Linked DNA regions of Homo sapiens. The protein of the gene in region 1 interacts with the protein of each later gene in a pairwise test. Each region holds a gene or a part of one and is shown on either strand. Other genes may lie near its edges. The genes, in order: ZBTB32 and ELF2.

What was found.
Region 2: the proteins of ZBTB32 (region 1) and ELF2 interact in a two-hybrid assay, tested with the Homo sapiens proteins (one large-scale study listed by BioGRID and IntAct).

Annotation. Positions count from the first base shown.
Region 1 is NC_000019.10:35,714,506-35,717,802, reverse strand, and holds the end of ZBTB32 (zinc finger and BTB domain-containing protein 32), read right to left. Parts: intron 3,281-3,297; 5' UTR 3,177-3,280; coding exon 2,296-3,176; intron 2,047-2,295; coding exon 1,973-2,046; coding exon of another isoform or gene 1,865-1,972; coding exon 1,796-1,864; intron 1,671-1,795; coding exon 1,506-1,670; intron 1,326-1,505; coding exon 1,051-1,325; 3' UTR 765-1,050; downstream 1-764. UniProt on the Homo sapiens protein: DNA-binding protein that binds to the to a 5'-TGTACAGTGT-3' core sequence. May function as a transcriptional transactivator and transcriptional repressor. Probably exerts its repressor effect by preventing GATA3 from binding to DNA.
Region 2 is NC_000004.12:139,072,638-139,076,453, forward strand, and holds part of ELF2 (ETS-related transcription factor Elf-2), read right to left. Parts: intron 931-3,816; coding exon 817-930; intron 1-816. UniProt on the Homo sapiens protein: Isoform 1 transcriptionally activates the LYN and BLK promoters and acts synergistically with RUNX1 to transactivate the BLK promoter. Isoform 2 may function in repression of RUNX1-mediated transactivation.

The DNA.
Region 1 (3,297 bases):
CACAGACCCCCGCGTCGCGGCCGCAGAGGGGCGAACCGCGGGGGCCTCCGGGAAATGTAGTCCGGACGCCTCGCTTCTTCCGCCGGCAGCCAGGGCGCGAGGGCCGGGACGGCGGGGTTCCCGGCCAGGACCCGGAAAGCGGGTTGCCGGGTCTCCGGGAGGTGTGGTCCTAGCCCCAGGCTCCTCCCATTGTTCTTGGCTAGGCCGGCGGCCCGCGTGGACTACCACTCCCAGGGTGCCGCGGGCTCGGGCCCCGGGACCCCCGAGGCCCTGGGAAATGCAGTTCGCGGCTGCAGGAGGCGTGGGCTGGAGAAGGAGCGGTGGAAAGCATAGTCAGTCTCCGTTCCAGGCGCGACCTGGCGGCGGCTTGGCACGGTGTGGAGGGAAGACGCCGGAGAGGCCGCGGTCTCGGGGTCCGTGTGCTCCCGGAGAGGAGGCGGGTGGCCGAAAGCAGGGTCGGAGCACGCGTTCCTCTCTCTCCCGGGCCGAGCGTTCCCAGATCAGACTCCGCGCGCCGTGGATTGCAGTGGAAGGGGCGAGTGACTTGCGGTCGCACAGCCCCCACCAGTCCAGGACCGGCATGCCGCAAGGTGTGCCCGGACACCGAGTCCTCGGGGCCGGCTGCCTCCTGGGGAGGACGGGGCGCCTCGGGGGTGGAAGAAGTGTCCATCCCGCTGGACAGCGGACGCAGGGCCACCAGGGGCCGCTACAGGACAAGGGGCGTGGGCGGGGGTGTGCACAGACTAAACTCGGCTTTCTAGTCCTGAAGGGAGGGCACAGGAAACTCTTTATTATGGTGATGAGATCGACAATCTCCCCTACTGTTAACCTTCGCTCCTGCACACTTCAGTGTCCTCACTCTGTAGGGCTCGCTGGCCTGGGCTTCTGCGACCCGCGATCGTCCAGGAGAGGGCACTCGGCGCCCTTCCTGGGGCGCTTCTGGGGCGGAATTTGCTAGGCCGCCGTAGCAGCGGTGCCAGGTCAGAAGCCGAGCCGGCCCGCTTTTCGTTCTTTAATTGGACTCTTGGCTAAGACGCTACCGACACCCCGTCAGGTGGTGGAGGAAGAAGGACAACAGGGAGAGGTCGAGGGCCGAGACGGCCTCGAGGAGGAGTAGAGGAAGGTGGAGCGGATGGTCCATCCGGGCGGGAGTTGGCTGGGCGAGTGACCGCGCATGTGCGCCTGCATGGAGGCCAGGCTGGGACAGCCGGCCCCGCACAGGGAGCAGCGGTACGGAGCGGCCCCGTGTGTCCGCAGGTGCTTGGTCATGGCCGAGAAGTCCCGGGAGCGCTGAGGACAAAGGCTACAGGAGAAGGGCTTCTCTCCTAGAGCGGTCGGAAGGGGAGGCCGGTGAAGGAAGGAAGAAGGCGGCGAAAGCTGGCCAAGTTAGGGGTGGATCGGGCCACGGGGCTAGGGGATTGCGCGGGAACCGGGCACACAGGTGGAGACTCAGGAGCGGAGTTGGGAAGAAAGCCGACAGTTCACACAGGGCAGGGCGCCCATACCTGTGTGGACTCGGTAGTGCGTCTCCATCTGATGCTTGAGTGAAAACCTCTTTCCACAGACAGAGCACGCATAGGGCCGAGACCGAGCAGGAGGGGCCGGGGGAGGGTGCGGGCGAGGTGGGCAGCCTGCCTTGTCCTCATGACCCGCACAGGTTGCAAGTGCGCCTGTGGGGACAGAGAAGGCAAAGGAGGGCAGGGCCAGGAATCCCAGCGCCAACTCACTGTACCATTCAGGCAGGAAATCAAGGGCTACAGTGGGGCTGAGGCACGAGTGCCCCCGCCCGACTCACCTGTGTGCCCCTGATCAGACTCTTCCATCTCCCCAGGGCTGAGCTGTGCGGGGCCCTGGGGGAGGGAACCTGGAAGGAACAGTGGGAGGTAGGGGCCCTGCTCAGGCTGGACTCCTCGAGCCCCAGCCCAGAGAAGACACCATGTTACAGGTGTATGCAGGACAGCGAGGGGCTTACCTGGGGTAGGGCTGGAGGAGGCCAACTGGTTCTGGCTCCAGAGCCCTTTGGGGGCATTTAGGGACAGTGGGATCCTGGGATGGGGTGGGGAAGAGTTACAGCCTTGGCTAAACCTGGGAGCCTGGCCCCTTCGTGAAGAGGGGGTATCCCAAGTCCTCCCCCGGGGGCTGGGCTTTGGCGTGCCCTGTGGCAGCAGCTTCTTGTCTCTTCCCCAGCTCAGGAACTGTGCAGTAGAGATGCAGTGCCCTTCCACCCAGCAGGGCTGCCCCTCCTGGGCCATGCCCTCCCAGCCTGGAGGCAGAGCACTAGACCCCGCCACTCACCTCTGTTCCCGCCAGACCTCCTGCCAGGCTCCAGTGGTGGGGGTGCTATGGTAGAAGGGAATGCCATATCTGGGCGGCATCAGCAGGATGCTCCACAGGGCAGGCTGGCCCCCCACCAACCAAGGGGCCTCAGCCCACGAGGGCCTAGGGGTGACGCTGGTTTGCAGGGAGCCTGCTGGGGGAAGGGGGCCAGGGAGCTTGCGCAGACTTTCCTCAGAGCCCCCTGGATTTTCCCTCAACCACGTGAGCACTCCATGCTTCCCATCTGCTCCCCTTTGGCCAACAGGGGCTTGGAGGCGTTTCTCCTTTGACCTGGTCTGTTCCTGCTGAGCCTCCTGCGTTGCTCCTGCCATCTCGGGTCTGCCTCTTGGTGGCGAGTGCTTGTGCAACATCTCCTGTTCTCTCCCACCAGTTCTAGAAACCTGTTCTGGTTTCTGCTTCTCTCCAGGGTCCCCCAGTTCTCTCTCAGGATTCCTTGAGGGTTTCTCTGGCTCCTCCTGATGTTTCTTCAGGCCTGGATCTGGCTTTTTAGCCCTGTCCCCTCGAGCCCTCCAGCATGCCTCTTCCAGGGACTGCACTCCCAAGGCCCTGGCCGCCTCCTGAAGGGGCCTTAGCTCTCCAGGCTGCAGCTCTACACTCTCCCCATACACAAAGTTCAGGAGCTGGGCAAAGGTAGAAGGGCTGATGCCTTCTCCCAGAGCCCACTGGCCCCTGCGGCCCAGCTGCTGGCTGACACCTGCTAGCACCAGGCTGTGGGCGGGGAACTCCTGGCTCCCTACGGTGATCAGAGTATCACAGAGTGCTGGCCGGAGCCTGGCTGCTAGCTGTACCAGCCGATCAGAGCCATAGGGGCTGGGCAGTCTTATGGGGGGCAGGGACATTGTGCCTTGGCTTGGGTACCTAACTCAGAGGCTCTAAGAGGAAGTCCACAGTGTGAGGTCCATGGTTGAAAGGGGAGGGAGGAACATCTCATCTCATTTCAAGCCTGTGGATGTGAGGGGA
Region 2 (3,816 bases), on another chromosome or scaffold:
TTATCTGGTATTCTAGTACATACAGTAATGTTGCTCTGGCTTCCTTCTAATGTGCACAAATAACCAAGATATGACATTTCTATTTCAATTAAGAGATACAATTAATACATACTATCTTAGATTAATAGACTGACCAAAAATGCTACAAATTTATTCTCATATCTCTGAGTAATACACAGGATTCTATTCAAATTAAGAAGTATGGTTGCTCTTATTGTGAATCCCAATGAGAAGGTGAGCCAGTATTTTTGTATCAAGTCAAATTAACATTTGGGCATTAAATTAAAATTAGGACAAATCAGGATTGGACAAAATGACTATCAAAGTTTTTCTTAAAGACTAAGAGGGACCACAAAAAAATAAAAACTCACACTGAAGGATGTGTGAAAAAAATGTCAAAAGCTCCCTTGTCTCTCTACCATGTGTGGTTCTCTGGAGTTACTGCCTATTTATCATTGAATAAAGGATTGAAAGTGGTCCTAACAGGCAACTGCTCCCATCTATCATACTCTGAAGGACTATGAAGGCTTATAACTTGCCCAGAGTTAAGGAAATAGACATGACAGTACAAATAGCTATTTAATAAATATTTGTCTATCTATAGTGGGTATTTTCTGTATCATTTGTTATGAAAATTAAGTATTTAAGACTTGGAGGCCTTGACAAATAAAGTTCAATTACTGCTGTCATGTATTCATGTGTAATGTACCTTTGAGAATTCCCAACAATTCCATTGGATTAAAAAAACAAAAAACTTTATTTTAGACATATGAAGTAGTATGACACGTTTAACATAAGAATGAACAGTTTACATACCAGGACTTCTTGAATCCCTCAAGCAGGTAGGAGATTCCATATGAAGCAGGGCTTCAGCAGCTTCAATTGTCTTATCTGTACAGTGTGCATTACTGCTGTGAACTGATGCTTCCACTGGAGGAAAAATAAGTTCTACTCAATTAAAAATACACTAAACACATGACTAAAACATATTACTAAGAAATAAACATATTCACTCCTGAAAGAGAAATGAAAAATAAATAAATATAAAATAACATGACTAACTCTAAGCCATTGATATCTATTCGTCTATATAAATTACAGAAATAATTTTTAAAAAGCTAATATCTACATTTTATAAAATGAATACTGATATAAAATGAATATTGATTATGAAGTAACCAATGACATTGATTAGAAATTACTGAGAAGTTGGCCAGGCATGGTGGTTCATGCCTGTAATCCCAGCACTCTGGGAGGCCAAGGAGGGTAGACCTTGGTCAGGAGTTGAAGACCAGCCTGACCAACATGGTGAAACCCCGTCTCTACCAAAAAATAGAAAAATTAGCTGAGCGTGGTGGCACATGCCTGTAATCCCAGCTACTCAAGAGGCTGAGGCTGGAGAATCGCTTGAACCCAGGAGGTAGAGGTTGCAGTGAGCTGAGATCGCACCACTGCGCTCCAGCCTGGGCGACAGAGTGAGACTCTGTCTCAAAACAACAACAACAAAAGAAATTACTGAGAAGTTTCTGAATCTTACTCAAAGGAAAACAAAGAAAGATCCTTGAAATTTGAACCCTGCATCAATTTTAGGCCAATACTAACTTGTGGGAAGGGAGGAAGGGTCAGGGAGAGGCTGGTTGTAGATTAAAAACCCTGTGAGGGCAATTATATATTTTGATGTATTGCCATTAAAGCCAGGGCACCTAACAGAACCATGCTGCGCTAATTTAATCAATTAATTCAATTCTTACAGACCCTCTTGAATGACTGAGTAGAGTAAGCCCTCCGTGTCCAAGGGTTCCGCATCAGCAGAGTCAAACAACCTCAGATTGAAAATATTGCAGGGGGGCCGGGTGTGGTGGCTCACACCTGTAAGCACTTTGAGAGGCCAAGGCGTGCGGATCACGAGGTCAAGAGATCGAGACCATCCTGACAAACATGGTGAAACTCCATCTCTATCAAAAACATAAAAATTAGCCGGGCGTGGTGGCGGGCACCTGTAGTCCCAGCTACTCAGGAGGCTGAGGCAGGAGAATCGCTTGAACCTGGGAGGCGGAGGTTGCAGTGAGCCAAGATCACACCATTGCACTCCAGCCTGGGCGACAGAGTGAGACACTGTCTCAAAAAAAAAAAACAAAAAGAAAATATTGCAGGGGAGGGGGAGGCAATAAAAAAAATACAACAATTAAAAATACAGTGTAAATACTACAGCATTTTGTATAAGGGACTTGACTGAGCATTCTAGGATTTTGGTATCTGCCAGGTGGAGGAGACATCCTGGAACCAATACCCCAGGTATACTGAGGGACAACTGTACTCTCCAGGCAGAGGTGACTAAAGATGGATAACAACATGCATTATATTTACTGCCAGAGTACTTGAGAACTTTCTTTATAATTAACCTCGCTCTCTTCAGAGCCTCAGTGGGTTTTAACCTAAGACTTTTTCTTAGAGTTTATTCTTCCCATGAGGCCTTCAAATTCTACCACGCTTTGTATCTCTCCTCTTCTAGCACTTCCTTTATGCTTTGCTGATTATGTTACTTGTAAAACAATGTGTACAGCAGTCAGTGGTTTGGGCTTTCAGGTCCAACAGCTTGGGTTCCAGTCTCTGCCACTTATTTCTGTTACCTGAGGTAAGCAACTTAATCTCTCTCATAGAGCAAGAATATGATAATTTCTTATCATTCCTGTAAGATTATAAACTTCTTGAGGTCTGGGGGGCTAGCTTAACCCATCTTTACATATGCCATGGTTCCCAACATAGACTTTTCATGGAGCAGACATGCGGATTTTTATTTTTATTTTTTTTGAGACGGAGTCTCGCTCTGTTGCCCAGGCTGGAGTGCAGTGGCATGATCTAGCTCACTGCAACCTCCACCTCTCAGGTTCAAGCGATTCTTCTGCCTCAGCCTCCTGAGTAGCTGGGATTACAGGCACATGCCACCATACCGGATTAATTTTTGTATTTTAGTAGAGACGGGGTTTCACCATGTTGGCCAGGCTGGTTTTGAACTCCTGACCTCAGGTGATACACCCGCCTCGGCCTCTCAAAGTGCTGGGATTACAGGCATGAGCCATCACGCCAGGCAGGTATTTATTTTATGTACTGAATTAAGGACAACCCACTGACCTTACAAGAAAATCAGCAATTCAAGAACAAATTTTATTATCTTAATAATATATTAATTTCACATCCTGACTTAAAATGTTGAACAGTTAACTTAGTAAGACGTTCTGAAACATGAATATTTAAGAGTCTCTAACTTGACAGATTTTTTTTAAGATGTCCCCTAAAGGAACTAAAAGTAAATGTTTATACAAATTTCATAAAGTCATATTACAAATTCATAAGCACTATACACTAACGATATGAATCTTTTAAAATTGTTTCCAGGAAACTTTTAATTGGGGGAAAAAATCCAGTTCATCTCAAAGTTCCCTAAATGCTAAAGCCTCAGTCTTAAACAACAGTCATTTGGAAAGCATTTATTTTAAAAATCCAATGACTGTTTTACCACCTGTTGCACATCATCCACAAGGTACTGGGTCTCTCCAGTTGCTCTTTCCATTTATGGAAATCTGTTCAAAGCTAAATGGTTCCAGAGAGGCAGCCAAACCTCTAAGTAAATCTATCTTTAGGTGACCCTGCTTACTCTTATCTGCAGCTTCACTGAAGCAAAGGATTCAATCAGCCTGTGTAGCTCAACTTTAAGAAAACTTAGCATTATTAAGTATAAGACATATTATCATTCTCAATTATTGTTTTCAAAGTGCCTCCCTACAATACTCACATACACTAAGAAAAAAAAAAAAC